Regions from separate parts of the Homo sapiens genome. Here region 2 is linked to region 1. The links come from fine-mapping of genetic effects on gene expression. A gene starts in region 1. The other region holds a variant in brackets. All regions are shown on one strand. Distances are from middle to middle.

Evidence for each region. PIP is the estimated chance that this variant, and not a neighbour inherited with it, causes the effect.
Region 2: its variant is fine-mapped to the expression of HSD17B6 in minor salivary gland (GTEx, PIP above 0.99).

Annotation. Positions count from the first base shown.
Region 1 is chr12:56,760,202-56,768,533 of GRCh38, reverse strand. HSD17B6 (hydroxysteroid 17-beta dehydrogenase 6) reads right to left here and starts at 5,210. Exons shown (of 5, transcript NM_003725.4): 1 at 5,120-5,210.
Region 2 is chr12:57,729,435-57,737,766 of GRCh38, reverse strand. AGAP2 (ArfGAP with GTPase domain, ankyrin repeat and PH domain 2) reads left to right here. Exons shown (of 19, transcript NM_001122772.3): 1 at 1-688; 2 at 2,340-2,398; 3 at 3,088-3,175; 4 at 3,363-3,448; 5 at 3,594-3,741; 6 at 4,788-4,922; 7 at 5,255-5,364; 8 at 5,800-5,958; 9 at 6,125-6,211; 10 at 6,297-6,401; 11 at 6,814-6,976; 12 at 7,153-7,272; 13 at 8,000-8,128. Among named protein-coding and RNA genes, the nearest start is that of AGAP2, 5.1 kb to the left of the region's middle. RefSeq lists an enhancer at 2,938-4,137. The variant C/T (reference allele first, on the strand shown) is at 4,149.

The DNA of each region.
Region 1 (8,332 bases):
GGTTCCAGGGCCCAGTGAGGCTACCTCTGCTCTAAATTTCTCTGTATTGTCTTCTATCCTCTTTCTTCTGCCTTTCATCCTCCCTAAGACCATCCTAACCTGCCACCCCTTTAATAACCATCCTCTCTCTTCCCCATATGGCCAAAATATTCAAAGGGCAAGCACAGGCCCTCTATTTTCTTGCCACCCACGAGCTCCTTGCACTTCACCTTCCATTCCCATCACTCTCTGGAAACTCTCTCACAGCTCACCAAGGACCTATTAGCAGACAATTCCCAAGGCTTCCTCTCTCTTCTCCTCAGACCTCACTGCAATATTTAGCACATTCTTTTTTCTTATGATTTTATCTGATTCTTAGATCCTAACCTGGCCTTCAGTGAAGAAGAAGAAGATTGCTTTCAGATCGTGCCATGCTCTCATTGGATTCTGTCTGTGACTCCCTGTCACCCACAGGATAAAGTCAGAACTCCTCAGCTTGACACACGATAATAATAGTGAACAGTTATAGAGAACTTTCCTTGCCAGGCACTGTGTGAAACCATATATATATATACACAATATACACACACACACACACATGGTTTCACACATATATATGTGTGTGTGTGTATATTGTATACGTGTGTGTATACATTGTATATATATGTGTATATACGTGTATATATACACGTATACACACACATATATTTTTATATATACACATATATACACACATATATATTATATATACACACATATATATTATATATACATAATATACACAATATATACACATATATATACGTATATATAATACATATATATTATATATGTGTGTATATATGTGTATATATAATATACCCTCTATTGTGTATATATAATATATACACTATATATATAATATATATAATATATTAATATAATATATATGTTATATATTAATATATGTATGTGTATATATATAATATATATACACAATAGAGGGTATATGCAATTATTTTGTTTTTGTTTTTTTTTTGTTTTCGTTTTGTTTTGTTTTGAGAGGGAGTCTCGCTCTGTCCCCGGGCTGGAGTGCAGTAGCGCGATCTCGGCTCACTGCAAGCTCTGCCTCCCAGGTTCACGCCATTCTCCTGCCTCAGCCTCCCGAGTAGCTGGGACTACAGGCGCCTGCCACCACGCCCGGCTAATTTTTTTTTTTTATTTTTTAGTGGAGACAGAGTTTCACCGTGTTAGGCAGGATGGTCTCGATCTCCTGACCTCGTGATCCTCCCACCTCAGCCTCCCAAAGTGCTGGGATTACAGGCGTGAGCCACCGCGCCTGGCAGTGTATGCAATTATTATGCCCACTTTTCACATGAGGAAACTGAAGCACAGATTAAGGCAAGAATTAAGTGACTTTTCCAAGGTGAAACAGAGTGAATAGTAGAGACAGGATCAACTCCAGAGTGTTCACCTGCAGAAGCCTTGCATCTAACCACTGCACTACACTGCCTTTCCCTTTCAAGACCAGCCTGGGCAACATGACTAAGCCCTATCTCTACTAAAAATACAAAAATTAGCTGATTTTTCATGGTCAGGCCATGGCCTACGTTTGCCCCTTGGCTCCTGTCTCTCACAGCCAGAAGCCATAGTTTAATCCTTCTGACTACCCAATTTGAAGCACACGCTTCTCCGTTCACTTCTGAGATGCTCTACTCCCGTTCTCCTACAGCAGTCACAGACAGCGTCCCTTCCCCTTCACCCCTCCCAGCTCCTCCTCTCCCTTCTCTACCCTAAATGCAAGGACTCCTCAATGCCTCTTGATTGGCCTATCACAGAAGCTTTCTCACTAACCCCACAGTGTCACTCTCACTTCCCCTCTCATCCACATAGGGCTGTCTGGTTAATTTCCCTAAAGCGCAGCTCTGCCGATGTCACTCCCTGAATAGCATTCAACCTACTGAAAATCTAAATCTAAAACCTTAGTTGTACAAGGCCCTCCATGATTGGATCTTGACCTTTTCTCCCCCTCCTCTTTCTCACACTGCCTATGTTCCATCAAAACCAAAGAGCTTTAAAATGAAGGAAGTATGATTTGCTGAGCCTTGGAGGACAGATGGTATTTGACATGCAGAGATTGGGAACCAGGGCATTTCAGGCAAAGGGAATAGTGAGAGCAAAGACCTGGAACATGGCAAGTACAGAGCACTAATAAATGGAGATACCAACAAGACTACTCTGGATGATTCCGACTACCTTTTGTCACACGCGTCCCAGTGAAGAGATCACCAAACAGGCTTTGTGTGAGCAACAAGGCTGTTTATTTCACCTGGGTGCAGGCGGGCTGAGTCCGAAAAGAGAGTCAGCAAAGGGAGATGGGGTGGGGTCATTTTATAGGATTTGGGTGGGTAGCGGAAAATTACATTTAAAGGGGGTTTTTCTCTTGCAGGCAGGGGTGGGGGTCATAAGGTGCTCAGTGGGGGAGCTTCTGAGCCAGGAGAAGGAATTTCACGAAGTTAATCACTCAGTTAATGTGGGGCAGGAACAAATCACAGTGGTGGAATGTCATCAGTTGAGGCTATTTTCACTTCTTTTGTGGATCTTCAGTTGCTTCAGGCCATCTGGATGTATACATGCAGGTCACAGGGGATGTGATGGCTTAGCTTGGGCTCAGAGGCCTGACACCTTTCCTTTTCTTTCTTTCCAAGAACCTCTCTGCATGAGCTTTCCTGCCCCAACCCTGATTTTGTGGATAGTATAGAATCATGAGGCTGGGCACAGTGGCTCACACTTGTAATCCCAATACTTTAGAAGGCTGAGGTAGGCGAATTCCTTGAGGAGTTCGAGACCAGCCTGAGCAACATGGCAAAATCCCATCTCTACAAAAAATACAAAAACTAGGCAGGCATGGTGGGGAGTGCCTGTAGTCCCAGCTACTCTGGAGGCTGACACGGTGGGGGGAGGGGGTGGGAATCACTTTAGCCTGGGAGGTCGAGGTTGCAGTGAGCCATGATTGCACTACCGCACTCTATCCTGGGCAACAGAGCAACACCCTGTTTGGAAAAATTAATAAATAGATAATAAGAAAAAAAAGGATTGGTTTTTTGTGTGTGTGTTTTTGTTTTTGTTGTTGTTTGTTTTGAGACGGAATCTTGCTCTGTCGCCAGGCTGGAGTGCAGTGGCGTGATCTCAGCTCACTGCAACCTCTGCCTCCCAGGTTCCAGCGATCCTCCGGCCTTAGCCTCCTGAGTAGCTGGGACTACAGGCATGCAACACCATGCCCGGCTAATTTTTGTATTTTTTAGTAAAGACAAGGTTTTACCATATTGCCCAGGCTGGTCTCAAACTCCTGACCTCGTGATCCGCCTGCCTCAGCCTCCCAAAGTGCTGGGATTACAGGCGTGAGCCACCGCACCCAGCCTAAAAAAAAATTTTCTTAAATAGAATCATGAGGCCAGGCATGGTGGCTCATGCTTTTAATCCCAGAACTTTGGGATGCGAGGCAGGCAGATCACTTGAGGCCAGGAGTTCAAGACCAGCCTGGCCAACATAGCGAAACCTCGTCTCTACTAAAAATACAAAAATTAGTCAGGTGTGATGGCGGGCGCCTGGAATCCCAGCTACTCAGGAGGCTGAGGCAGGAGAATAGCTTGAACCTGGGAGGCAGAGGCCGCAATGAGCTGAGATCATGCCACTGCACTCCAGCCTGGAAGACAGAGTGAGACTCTCTCTCAAAAGAAAAAAATAAAAAATAGAATCATGAGCATAGACTCTGAGGCCAGATGGCCTGGGTTCAAAATCAGGCTTCGAGATTTACTTGTTCTGCAGCCTTGAGTAAGTGAACTGGCCTCTGTTCCTGTGTGCTCGTGTTCAAAATGGGAAAAAGAAACCTCAGTGATTTATTGAGAGGGTTAAATAAGTTAATGCATGTAAAGCAATACATAATTGTTAGATATTAGTATTATTTTGGGTAGTTGTTGTCTTATTATTGCCATATTGCCTTTCTCCCTGAGCCCTGTCTCTTCCCCTGAGCTTTCATAGAAGGAAACTGTGCCATGGGAATGTGCATTATCTGGTGCATTACACCACCACTTTTCTACAGTATGCATAACTCCACATATTGCAACATCCTTAATCATTTCTATCAGCTCTTTATCACTATTTTGGGCCATGCTCGTGCACCTTAACTTCCTTCTGTCTCAAGCGAGGACCTCTCTCTCTGCAATATAATACATGGCAAAGTAAGAAGTAGCCTTTATTCCCTTCTTTGGTTAAAATCTTCAGACATGGGTTTGTCTATAAACTCCAGTCAGCTTAGTCACTGATCCTAAGAGCAAGTCTGTAAACAGCACATGGCTCCCTGAACTGATCCACCATGACATTCTTTTCTTCCCACTTGGGCATACAGGCTAAGTATTCCTCAAGTCAATAATTGTTTTTTCTTTTCTTTTTGATTTTCTTTTTTTTTTCTTTTTTTCTTTCTTCTTTTTTTTTTTTTTTTTTTTTTGAGACACGGTCTCACTCTGTCATGTAGGCTGGAGTGCAGTGGTGCAATCACAGCTCACTGTAGCCTCGACCTCCTGGGCTCAGGTGATCCTCCCACCTCAGCCTCCCAAGTGGCTGGGACCACAGGTGTGCACCACCACACCTAGCTAATTTTTTGTATTTTTTGTAGAGACAGGGTTTCATCATGTTGCCCAGGCTGGTCCCAAACTCCTGAGTTCAAGGGATCCTCACTCCTCAACCTCTCAGAGTTCTGGGATCTTGGCCCAATCACAGAAGGCCCCTTTCCGCTTACCCAAAGTTTCACAAACTTACCCAACAGCTATCAGCATTAACCATTAAAGAGCTTGTTTCCCCCACTGCCGAGAATCCCGTTTTCAGAGGATACCCAGAGTCCCTATTTGTAAGTATGAAATCACTCCCAACTTGTAACCAGTACTCTCCCAAACTTCATGGGAGTAAAGATCAAAAAAGCAGAGCAAGCAATCGTGACAAAATTTCTTTCACGAATCAAAGTTGAAGGATCTTTTAAGATGATAAAAAATCATAATCAAAACCTGTCTCCAAACAGACCATATCCCATATCCCCTACACACACACACACACACACACACACACACACACACACACACACAACCACCCTTACCCACCTACATACCGGACTTGCTTAGGAAGAGTCCAGTCCTAGAGACTTGAAAGGACTTCTTTGCAGACCAGGCAGCAGTCGGCTTCCTCCTGCCCCAACTGCTGCCCACTCCAACCTCTGCATTGCTCTTATAACACCTCCCTCTTGTGGTAAGAGTCCAGGCTGCTTCACTCCCTCATAGGGTTCTCACCAGTGTCATCCTTGATCAGCTGCAGAATCAGATCTGTTACTACCAAAATGAAAAACAGAAAGAAAGAAAAGAGCTGCCCTGACCAGAGAGTCTTGTATGCTCCTCAGCCCCCATCCTCTAATTTTTTTTTTTTTTTTTTGAGACAGAGTCTCGCTCTGTCACCCAGGCTGGAGTGCAGTGGCATGATCTCGGCTCACTGCAACCTCCACCTCCCGGGTTCAAGCAATTCTCCTGCCTCAGCCTCTGGAGTAGCTGGGGTTACAGGCGCCTGTAAAAATTTTTGTATTTTTAGTAGAGATGGGGTTTTACCAAGTTGGCCAGGCTGGTCTCGAGCTCCTGGCCTCAAGTGATCCACCTGCCTTGACTTCCCAAAGTGCTGGGATTACACATGAGCTGACGCACCCAGCCCTCTATTTAATTACTGAGACAGGGTTTCCCTCTGTCACTCAGGCTGGAGTGCAGTAGCACAATCTGGGCTCACTGCAGCCTCGACCTCCCAGGCTCAAGTGATCCTCCCACCTCAGCCTCCAGAGTAGCTGGGACTAAAGGTGCACGCCACCATGCCCAACTAATTTTGAGTTTTTTTGTTTGTTTGTTTGTTTGTTTGTTTTTTGTAGAGATGGGGTTTCACCAGCTTGCCCACACTGGTCTCGAACTCCTGGGCTCAAACGATCTGCCTGCCTCAGCTTCCTAAAGTTCTAGGATTACAGGCGTGTACCACCGTGCCTGGTCCCATCCTCTAATTTAAACTGGAATATTACAATGCAAATCCCCTGCTGGAATGGGGTCAGAGGGCAGGTTGATTTTAGCAAAGCCCACTTCTTAAGACTGCCAACCTGAGATCAGCTGCTGCAAGCTGGGGCTGGCTCAGTCACCTTTCTGAAAGAACTGCAGCTGTTTCATAGCTTGAGCCCTGGACCTAGGGTTGTGTGTGTGTGTGTGTGTGTGTGTGTGTGTGTGTGTATATATATATATATATATTTTTTTTTTAAGTAACAGCTTTATTGAGGCATAATTCACATATCATACCATTCACTCTTTTGAAGTGTACGATTCAATGGGTTTTAGTATATTCACAAGGTTGTGCAACAATCATCACTATCTAGTTTCAGAATACTTTTATTATCCCAAAAGAACCCCATACTCCTTAGCAGTCACCTCCCATTCTTTCCTCCCACACCCCACTCCTGGCAACCAGTAATCTACTTTCCATGTTTGTGGATTTGCCTATTCTGGACACTTCATATAAATGGAATCACACAATATGTGACCTTTGTGACTGGCTTCTTCTGTTTAGCATAATGTTTTCAAGGTTCATCTATTTATCAGTACTTCATTTTAATGTCTGAATCATATTCCATTGTGTGGCTATTCCACGTTTTGTTTATGCATCCATCAACTGATAAACATTTGGGTTGTTTCTGCTTTTTTGTGTTATTATGAATAATGCTGAAACGAATATTTACATACAGATTTTTTGTGTGGACATGGGCCTTCAATTCTCTTGGATATATGTACCCTAAGAGTGAAATTGCTGGGTCAAATGATAACTCTATTTTTAACATTTTGAGGAATTCCCAAACTGTTTTCCAAAGAGGCTGCACCATTTTACAATCTCACCAGCTTCATATGAGGGTTCCAAATTCTCCACATGCTCACCAACACTTATTATCTTTTTTTTTTTTTTTTTTTTTTTGAGAGGGAGTCTCACTCTGTCACCCAGGCTGGAGGACAGTGGTGCAATCTCACCTTACTGCAACCTCTTCCTCCTGGGTTCAAGTGATTCTCCTGCCTCAGCCTCCTGAGTAGCTGGGATTACAGGTGCATGCCACCACACCCAGCTAATTTTTGTATTTTTAGTAGAGACGAGTTTTCGCCATGTTGACCAGGCTGGTCTCAAACTCCTGACCTCAAGTGATCCACTCACCTCGGCCTCCCAAAGTGCTGGGATTACAGGCATGAGCCACCGTGCCTGGCCATATTATCTTTTTTATTTTAGCCATCCTAGTTGGTATGGATTGATATCTCACTGTGGTTTTGATTTGCATTTCCCTAATGATTAATGATGTTGAGCATCCTTTCATGTGCTTATTGGCTATTTGTTTGTCTTCTCTGGTGAAATGCCTATTCAAATCTTTTGCTCATTTTTTGTCTTATATTAAATGTGACGAGTCACAGTACGACCCCGTAGTAAAATCGTACTTAGGGAGAATCACAACAGTACCTCAAACTCAACACATTCAAAACTAAAATGATGATGATTCACTGCAATCTGGTCCTCCTCATTTTCATGTTATTTCCTATCTGCATATGTATTCAACAAATTTAATAAGTGCTTAATAGATGCCAGGCAACTCCCTTCCATCCAGTTGCCCAAGTCTGAAACCTGGGAATCATCCTAGACCCCTTCCTCATCCCCCATGTCCAATCAATATTAATTCTACCTCCTTAAAGTCATTATGTCCATCCCATCCCTTCCATCTCCACTTTACTGCCTTAGCTCAGGCCATCAGTATTTCTCACCTGGTTTCCGGCAACAGTCTGCTAGGATTGCTCCACCTCTGGTTTCTCTCTACCCTCCTATTTGCCCTCTACAGGGCTCCAGAGTTTATTTATAAAACACAACTCTGAGGCCGGGGGCGGTGGCTCACACCTGTAATCCCAGCACTTTGGAAGGCCGAGGTGGGAAGATCACTTGAGCCTAGGAGTTCGAGACCAGCTTGGCCAATATTGCAAAACCCCGTCTCTACACAAAATACAAAAATTAGCCGGGTGTGGTGGCACATGCCCATAATCCCAGCTACTCGGGAGGCCGAGGTGGGAGGATCACCTGAGCCTGGGAAGGTTGAAGCTGCAGTGAGCCATGATCATGCCACTGCACTCCAGCTTGGATGACAGAGACCCTGTCTCATAAATAAACAAACAAACAAACAAAACACAACTCTGATTATGTTTCTACTCTGCTTAAAACCCTTCAATGAGCCAGGAATGGTAGCTCACATCTGTAATCCCAGCACTTTGGGAGGCCAAGGCAG
Region 2 (8,332 bases), 970 kb before region 1:
GGCGGCATCCCTGGCTCATCCTCTCCGCACCCTGGCACCGGCAGCCGGAGGCTCAAGGTGGCGCCTCCTCCGCCGGCTCCCAAGCCTTGCAAGACCGTGACCACGAGTGGAGCCAAAGCCGGCGGGGGCAAGGGCGCGGGTAGCCGCCTGTCATGGCCCGAAAGCGAGGGCAAGCCCAGGGTCAAGGGGTCAAAGAGCAGCGCCGGGACTGGAGCTTCGGTCTCTGCCGCCGCCACCGCCGCCGCCGCCGGGGGAGGGGGCTCTACAGCTTCGACCTCTGGTGGGGTCGGGGCTGGGGCTGGAGCCCGAGGGAAGTTGTCCCCTCGGAAAGGCAAGAGTAAGACCTTGGACAACAGTGACTTGCATCCGGGACCGCCTGCCGGCTCTCCTCCTCCGCTAACCCTCCCACCAACTCCGAGTCCAGCCACTGCTGTCACCGCTGCTTCCGCGCAGCCCCCCGGGCCTGCACCTCCAATCACTCTGGAGCCTCCAGCTCCGGGGCTGAAACGGGGCCGGGAGGGGGGCCGAGCATCCACTCGTGACCGCAAGATGCTCAAGTTTATCAGCGGCATCTTCACCAAGAGCACAGGAGGGCCTCCTGGCTCCGGGCCCCTTCCCGGACCCCCCAGCCTGTCTTCTGGCAGCGGGTCCAGGGAGCTGCTGGGCGCCGAGCTCCGCGCTTCCCCTAGTGAGTTGAGTCAGGGCTTGAGAACAGGGAGGGAAGGGTACCTGGAATGCTCAGCTTGGGGTGGAGGAGCGAGGTCCAGGAAACTAGGGAAGCTTTTCTCTGGGGTGGGCGGATGAACCAAGCTCACCCCTCTGTCAAGGATTGGGGCAAAGAATAGGAGTCCTGAAGCGGGGCGAGTAGCTACATTGTGCGACAGGAGAAAGGACTTGATTTCAGAGGGACTCAGCCTCAGAGCTTTCTGGGAAAGTAACGTCCTTGATCAGAGTGACTAGAAAATTGCTCCCAGAGAAGCCCAGGACCCCACTTCCAGCCTCAGCTGAACTCTGGGAGCATGGAAACGGGGCTTTGCCGTGTTTAGAGCGACGTTGAAGGTGAAGGGGATGAGGAAGCCTCAGTTTCCCCTGAGCACTTGGGGCAGGTGGCATGACAGTGACCTTGCAGGCAGCTTCTCGCCAGGGACTAGTCGTCCCCTGGGCTGAGAGCAGGCTAGTGATGTTTTTCGTGCGGTGAAGGCGGATTGGGCGGTACGCGAGTCCGCGGGGGCTGGAACGTGCAGAATATTTAAATGTGAAGTGAGAGGGGGCGGATAGGAAGCCTCACTTCCCCCACTGCCCACCCCCTCCCCAGAGCCGCATTGAAACCCACCCGGGGCTGACCCTGGAGTGAGTCAGGTGGGGCGGAACTGCTGCAAAGGCAATCCGTACCCCGGGAGACTTGGGAGGCGGTACGGGGAAGGTAGTGTTTTTTACGGGGGCAGGGTGTCTATTATTATTACTATTTTCCTACTGGAGGAGATAGGCAGGAGACTCTTGGTTCGGCTCACACTCCCGGGAGAGGAGGCGGGTCCGGGAGCGGAGGCGGCCCCCGGGGTTTGGCTCCGGAGCGGGTGGGAGCAGATGGCTCCGGATCCCAGAGTTCCCGCCGCAGCTGCGGCGCCCCGGGAACGTCCGGCCGGTGTCAGGCGCGGGGGCTGGACCTGGCTGGCGGAAGGAGCATCCTTTCCCCCGGGCCTGTGGCTTCTCTCGGCCAGGCGATGGAGCCCTTCCCCACAGTTCTTTTGGAGGGCGTTTGTGGGGAGGGTGTGGGAGATGGAGGCATAGGAAAATCCTAGCTCTTTCCCTTGGGCTGTGGGGAGGGGTCCAGGGCTACAGTGCCGTTGACCTTGAAGAAGGGGAGGGAAACCCCTCACCTCAGTTTCTCTCCTGTGGAATGGAGGTTGGGGAAGACACACTCTCTTCTGTGTTTCAGCACCTCCTCCCAGGGTCTGCCCTGGGAACCAGTGGGTTAGGGAGGAGCTCCTCTTCTATTCTTTTTCCAGAGGGAAGAACCTGCCACTGTCAGAGCCCTGGTCTCCCTGTCTGGGGCCAGGACCCGCGTTTGGGGATGTGCTTTAAGGGAGATGCCAACTGAAGTATTTTTGTCTTGCTAGCTCCGTTGCTAAGCAACCACTGAGCGGCAGCAACAGCTGGGGGAGAGTGGCTGGGATGGGAGGCCTGGGGACCACCCTCAAACCTGTCTGTTGCACACACCTCTCCAGTGCAGGCAGGGTTGGGGGGGGGTTGGAAAGCTGCAGAGGGAGGAGGGGTGGCTCAGTGTTGGGGGTCCTTCTGAGCCAGGAGCCTCCCCTCTTACTGCCCTTCTCCCGTTACAGAGGCTGTGATCAATAGCCAGGAATGGACTTTGAGCCGCTCCATTCCTGAACTGCGCCTGGTAGGTAACCCAGTCCCCTTGCCTATAGGGAAGGCTGACCTCCCACCCACTGCACTCTCAGCTCTCTCCCTTCACCTCTCCTTCTCTCTCTCTCTCTCTTTGGGAATAGGGAATCGTTTTCCAGTTCTCCTGAGAGTCTGCCTTCATAGCACCAACATGGGGTTTGCTACAGCCTCCTCACAAGTTTTTCCTATCTAGTCTTTATGCAGCCATCCCCTTTTTCCTGTTTGTTCATGGTCCTCCTCCAGGCTTCTCATTTCTGGTATCTGCCCTTTGGCCTTCATGTTGTACTGCCTAGAATTGGGTAAAGTTTTCCAACTAGTGCCTAGAGCTGTGACATGCTACAAACACACACACACAGAGACACACACACACAACATATCTAGTATGTTTTCTAAACAACCCAACACACAAAAAAGCTGGTACTGAATTGCTGACATTCTTCAGCTCGTGCTCCACTTTGAGCTTGGGATCATTTCTTACCACACTCATGCCCTGATCCTCCCAACTGCTCTGATCCCCCCAGCTGCTCTGATCCTCCCAACTGCTCTCTCTGGAATGACTGTCATCCAGGCCCTGTAGGGTCCTGCTTGGATGACTTATCTCTCTGGGTTTTCTGGAGTGTCCAGACCCATGCATCCTGCCTTCTCTTATATCCCACAATTTCTGCTCCACAACCTTGCCCTCAGGGTGTGCTGGGCGATGCCAGGAGTGGGAAGTCATCGCTCATCCACCGATTCCTGACTGGCTCATACCAGGTGCTGGAGAAGACAGAGAGTGAGTTCTGAAGAGCCATAGTAAGCTAACCATTGGGGTCAGGGATCCAGGAGTGAGATCAATGATTAGGCAGGTGTGGAGACCAGGGGGGAAGGATGAGGCCATAATAGCAAAAGCACTGGGAGCATGGGGAGGTTTGGTGACCTGTCACCTCTGACCTGTTACCCCTTCCAACTCTTCTGGACAGGTGAGCAGTACAAGAAAGAAATGTTGGTGGATGGACAGACACATCTGGTGCTAATCCGAGAGGAAGCTGGGGCACCTGATGCCAAGGTGAGGGTGGAGGTGGTGGGGGACAGGCTGGCTGGGGTCAGCACTGGCCAAAGGAGAGGGCTCTGGTTTCCCAGGTCTTCATCTGGATTGGGTCCAGAGGAGTAGACCTGTCTGACTTTCCATTTGCTCCCTCACTCCCCGCAAGTTCTCAGGCTGGGCAGATGCTGTGATCTTCGTCTTCAGCCTGGAGGATGAGAACAGTTTCCAGGCTGTGAGCCGTCTCCATGGGCAGCTGAGTTCCCTTCGCGGGGAGGGACGAGGAGGCCTGGCCTTGGCACTGGTGGGGACACAAGGTAAGGAGGGGTTAGGAAAGCACTGCTTTCAAGGGAGGCCCTAAGGAGGCTACTGGGATATTGCCCAACATGGGTGAGAACTTGGTAAGGTGTGGAAATGGCCACTTGGATTATAGTACCCTTCTGGAGGGAGCCTGGTCTCCAAATAAGGGAGTCATGAAACCAAACAATAACTTCCCAAGGTCTGAGCAGAGAAAAGGGGATCTCCAGGGAGGAAAGGACAGCTATAGTAGCCATCTCCTTGCCTCTCCTGAAATGTCACCTACCTTGTGTTCTGACACTGCCATTTCCTAGTGCCACCATCCTAGGACACAGAAAATCTCAAGTCCTAGGGTGGATAGGAAACCTTTTCCATCTTCCTTTTTGCGACAGCTGGGTAAGGCTGACACCTTTTAAAGGAACTTATC[C/T]AAAAACAAAGTGAAAACACAAAGGAAATGATGATGAAAAGAAGAGAGCAGAAAACCTTTTAGTTCTCAGAGAAGTGACTCAGAGGCTCCCAGACTCTGCCAGGGCCAGGAAATGCTTTTCCAGCACTCCCCTGTGTCGAGCTGGTGGGACTTGGTCTGGATGCCTGTTCTGCTGGTGCCTATCTCCACCTGTTGCTTGCATCCTGGTTTCTTGCTGCAGAGTGGGCAGTCCAGCCATGACCCATGGGCACCCAACCTTTTCCTAGTTCACAAGCTGGTGTCCTCCCACCAGTTCAGGGTTCTATGGATTTGCAGGGCAGGGTGATTGTCGCTCGCGCCTGGGTCTCAGCTATGTAGACCTTGTCAGGAAGCACCACTCAGCAGCTCTGGAGTATTCCTTGAGGACACACACACACACACACACACACACACAGCTCACCCAGCTAGGTGTGTGAACTGGGCCCAGTACTCAGAAAGGGCTTATGTACTCCCATTCCACCTGGTCACAGAAAAGATGATCTCTCACACCCCATCCCCAGTGGACCCAGCCTGAGGGCCCAGTGCAAGGATAAGGGAATTGTGAAAAATCGAACAAGGTGGGGCTCCTTGTTCAATCCTGCCCCTTTCCTGTCCCCTCAGACAGGATCAGTGCTTCCTCCCCTCGGGTGGTGGGAGATGCTCGTGCCAGAGCTCTGTGCGCGGACATGAAACGCTGCAGCTACTATGAGACTTGTGCAACCTATGGGCTCAATGTGGATCGGGTCTTCCAGGAGGGTGAGTGTAGTGATCTCCAGCATATGTGGGAAGCCAGAGCAAGGGGCCTGGGATATTCTCAGTGGTCAGGCATCCAGGCCTCTCTCTGTGAGTGACAGGAAATTAGCCTTTGTGGGAGGGAGGAGAGATCAGGGAGGCCAGAGAAGGTTTGCTTAATAGTCGCAAGGTCTTTCTGGGCTGGAGGAGCTGGCAAGGCCACAGGTGGCATGGAGGCCACAGTGACAAGGAAGTTGGGTCCTGTGTTGTCTACTGGGGATTTCTCAAAGCTGGGCATGGAAGGGTGGTCTTGGGTATCTGGCCTGCTCACACCTCCTTCCGTCAACTCCCCTCAGTGGCCCAGAAGGTGGTGACCTTGCGCAAGCAGCAACAGCTTCTGGCTGCCTGCAAGTCCCTGCCCAGCTCCCCAAGCCACTCAGCTGCATCCACTCCGGTAGCTGGCCAGGTGAGTTGGGGTTTCAGAGTCTGCAGAGGGGCCGGTAAGATGCAGAGGGGCTGGGGATCCTAGGACAGGTACAGAGTACCCAAGGAGGTTCAGGGAGTGGGGAAACAGATGGAAATGGCAGTGAAACTATTGGCAGAAAGTGCATTGGACTGGAAATCAACCAGATTTGAGACATCATTTGCAGTGTCCTTAAGCAACTCACCTAACCTCCCAAGGCTATCAGGAAGATTGTATGACACAATACTTGTGAATCAACCTTTACAACATTTAAAGCATTGTCACAATGTTAGTGAGGATTTTAAAAATTATTAATGACAACATAAATAAATGGTGAGGTGATCAAGGAATGTCTCAAATTCCCCATAACGAGATATGAGTGTAGCTTGGTGGAGTAGGGGGCATCTCAGCTCTGCTGACTCTTCCATATGTGCCCAGGCTAGTAACGGGGGCCACACTAGCGACTACTCTTCTTCCCTCCCGTCCTCACCGAATGTTGGTCACCGGGAGCTCCGAGCCGAGGCAGCTGCAGTGGCTGGATTGAGCACCCCAGGGTCCCTGCACCGGGCAGCCAAGCGCAGGACCAGCCTTTTTGCGGTATTGGACATGGACATGCTGACCCCCATCCTCCTGTCCCCCATGACCTGCCCATCTTCCCTAGTCCCTAGACTCCTCTGTTGGGCCCTTCTTCATCTATCTTCCCTATCGTCACATCAGTGTATCCCTCTATCCATCCTCAAACTGATTCCAATAACCATTCCAGAATCGTCGGGGTAGTGACTCCGAGAAACGAAGCTTGGATAGTCGGGGAGAGACAACAGGGAGTGGGCGAGCCATCCCCATCAAACAGGTGAGTGATCCAGGGGCTGGGACAGGCTAGGGGCAGCTGGTCTTAGTTGGCTTTTTTCCCACATGTGTCTTTCCCCTTTCTCCAGAGCTTCCTACTAAAACGAAGTGGCAATTCCTTGAACAAAGAATGGAAGAAGAAATATGTAACCCTGTCCAGTAATGGCTTTCTACTCTACCACCCCAGTATTAACGTGAGTGGCAGAGACTGGGCCACATTGGCCAGCTTTGGATTTCCCTCAAGTTCTACCTGTCTATGCCTCTGACAAAGCACTAACCTCATTTCTAGGAAGTGCTAGTCCTCTTCTCTTAAGTTTAGCAGGCATGTGTTAAGAGCCCACCATGTGCCCATGCCAGGAATGTAAAGGTAAATACATTGCCCCAGGAACTTGCAGTCTAGTGGGAGAGCACCCAGGAAGGGAACGCTTTCTGGAGGAGACAATTGCTGGGCCAAGTCTGATGGGCCCATCCCCTAGATGTTCATCACAACCCATTTGGCCCCCAAGACCCCTCCCCAGTCCCTCTCTATTCTGTACCATGTTGACTGCTTCCCAGCATACCAAGGACCCCAACCTTCCCTACACTCTCGGCCCTGTACCCCTCCAGGATTACATCCACAGTACCCACGGCAAGGAGATGGACTTGCTGCGAACAACAGTCAAAGTCCCGGGCAAGCGGCCCCCGAGGGCCATCTCTGCCTTTGGCCCCTCAGCCAGCATTAACGGGCTCGTCAAGGACATGAGCACTGTCCAGATGGGTGAAGGCCTGGGTGAGTAAGGTTTATGACATAGGAGCAGAAGAGGGGCCAGGGCTGGGGAAAAAGAGGGGTAAGAGGGAAGAGGGGGCTGGCACTGGGCGAGTAGGAAGCTGGGTGATAAAGAGGGACCACATAAGGAATGGGGCCAGAAGAAAGAGGCTCACTGAGGTTTCATCTTCTTCCGACAGAAGCCACTACTCCCATGCCAAGCCCTAGCCCCAGCCCCAGTTCCCTGCAGCCACCACCAGATCAGACATCCAAACACCTGCTGAAGCCAGACCGGAATTTGGCCCGAGCCCTCAGCACGGGTCAGTGGGGATGACCTTCCATCTGCTGTCTTCCACACCCAAATAGGATGAGTGTGGGAAATGAATATGGGGTGAAGGCTTGGAGGCTGGAATAAATGCATGAGTGAACACATGGAGCCCCACACATGAATAAGTTCAATCATACCATGTCTATCATAATGGTTAAGACAAGTGGACTCTAACGTCAACTGCCTGAGCTTGAATCCTGGCTTGCCACATGGGCAAGTTACTTGACCTCTCCGTGCCTCAGTTTCCTCATCTGTAACATGGAGATAATAGTTTCTACCTCAGAGGGTTGCTTTGAGGTTTAAACAAACTGAGAATATTGTCTAGTACATAGTCAGCCATGTTTGACATGTTTGAAAAAAAATATATATATATAGTATGCAAATAACATTGTAAACAAATGATCCTTACAACAGTTTTGTCAGGTCAAGATTATTACCCCTATTTCAGAGATAAAGAAACTGAGGCTCAGAAGATTAAGTGCCTTGCTCAAGGTCTTAAGGCCAGTAAGTGGCAGAACCAGGATCTGAGTGCAGGACTGACTCTAAACCTCTCATCTCCCTGCATCCCCAGGAATGATCAAGGGGGAACTCCTGGAGAGGGACAGTTGAGGAGGGGAGCCCTAAAATGCCAAAGCTAGTTCAGGGAATGAGACAGGCTATCAAGAAATCAGGAAATCTGTGGAGGGGGCTACTGAGGCAGCTGTGTCTTCCTCCCTAAGACTGTACCCCATCTGGAGACCTGAGCCCCCTGAGTCGGGAACCCCCTCCTTCTCCCATGGTGAAGAAGCAGAGGAGGAAAAAATTGACAACACCATCCAAGACTGAAGGCTCGGCTGGGCAGGCTGAAGGTGAGGCTCTGGCAGGCACTTCCACTCCCACCCAGAACCCTCATCCCCAACATCAGCTCCCTGGCCTAACTCCTGCAGCAGGAGGAAAAGTGCCTGAGCTGAGTGCTTGACTACCATTACCACTGCACACAACTTAGTGAAAGAGTGGATGGACATCCCCCAGCCCCTGTCCTTCTTTCCTTGTTCCCCAGCTAATTCCTTTCC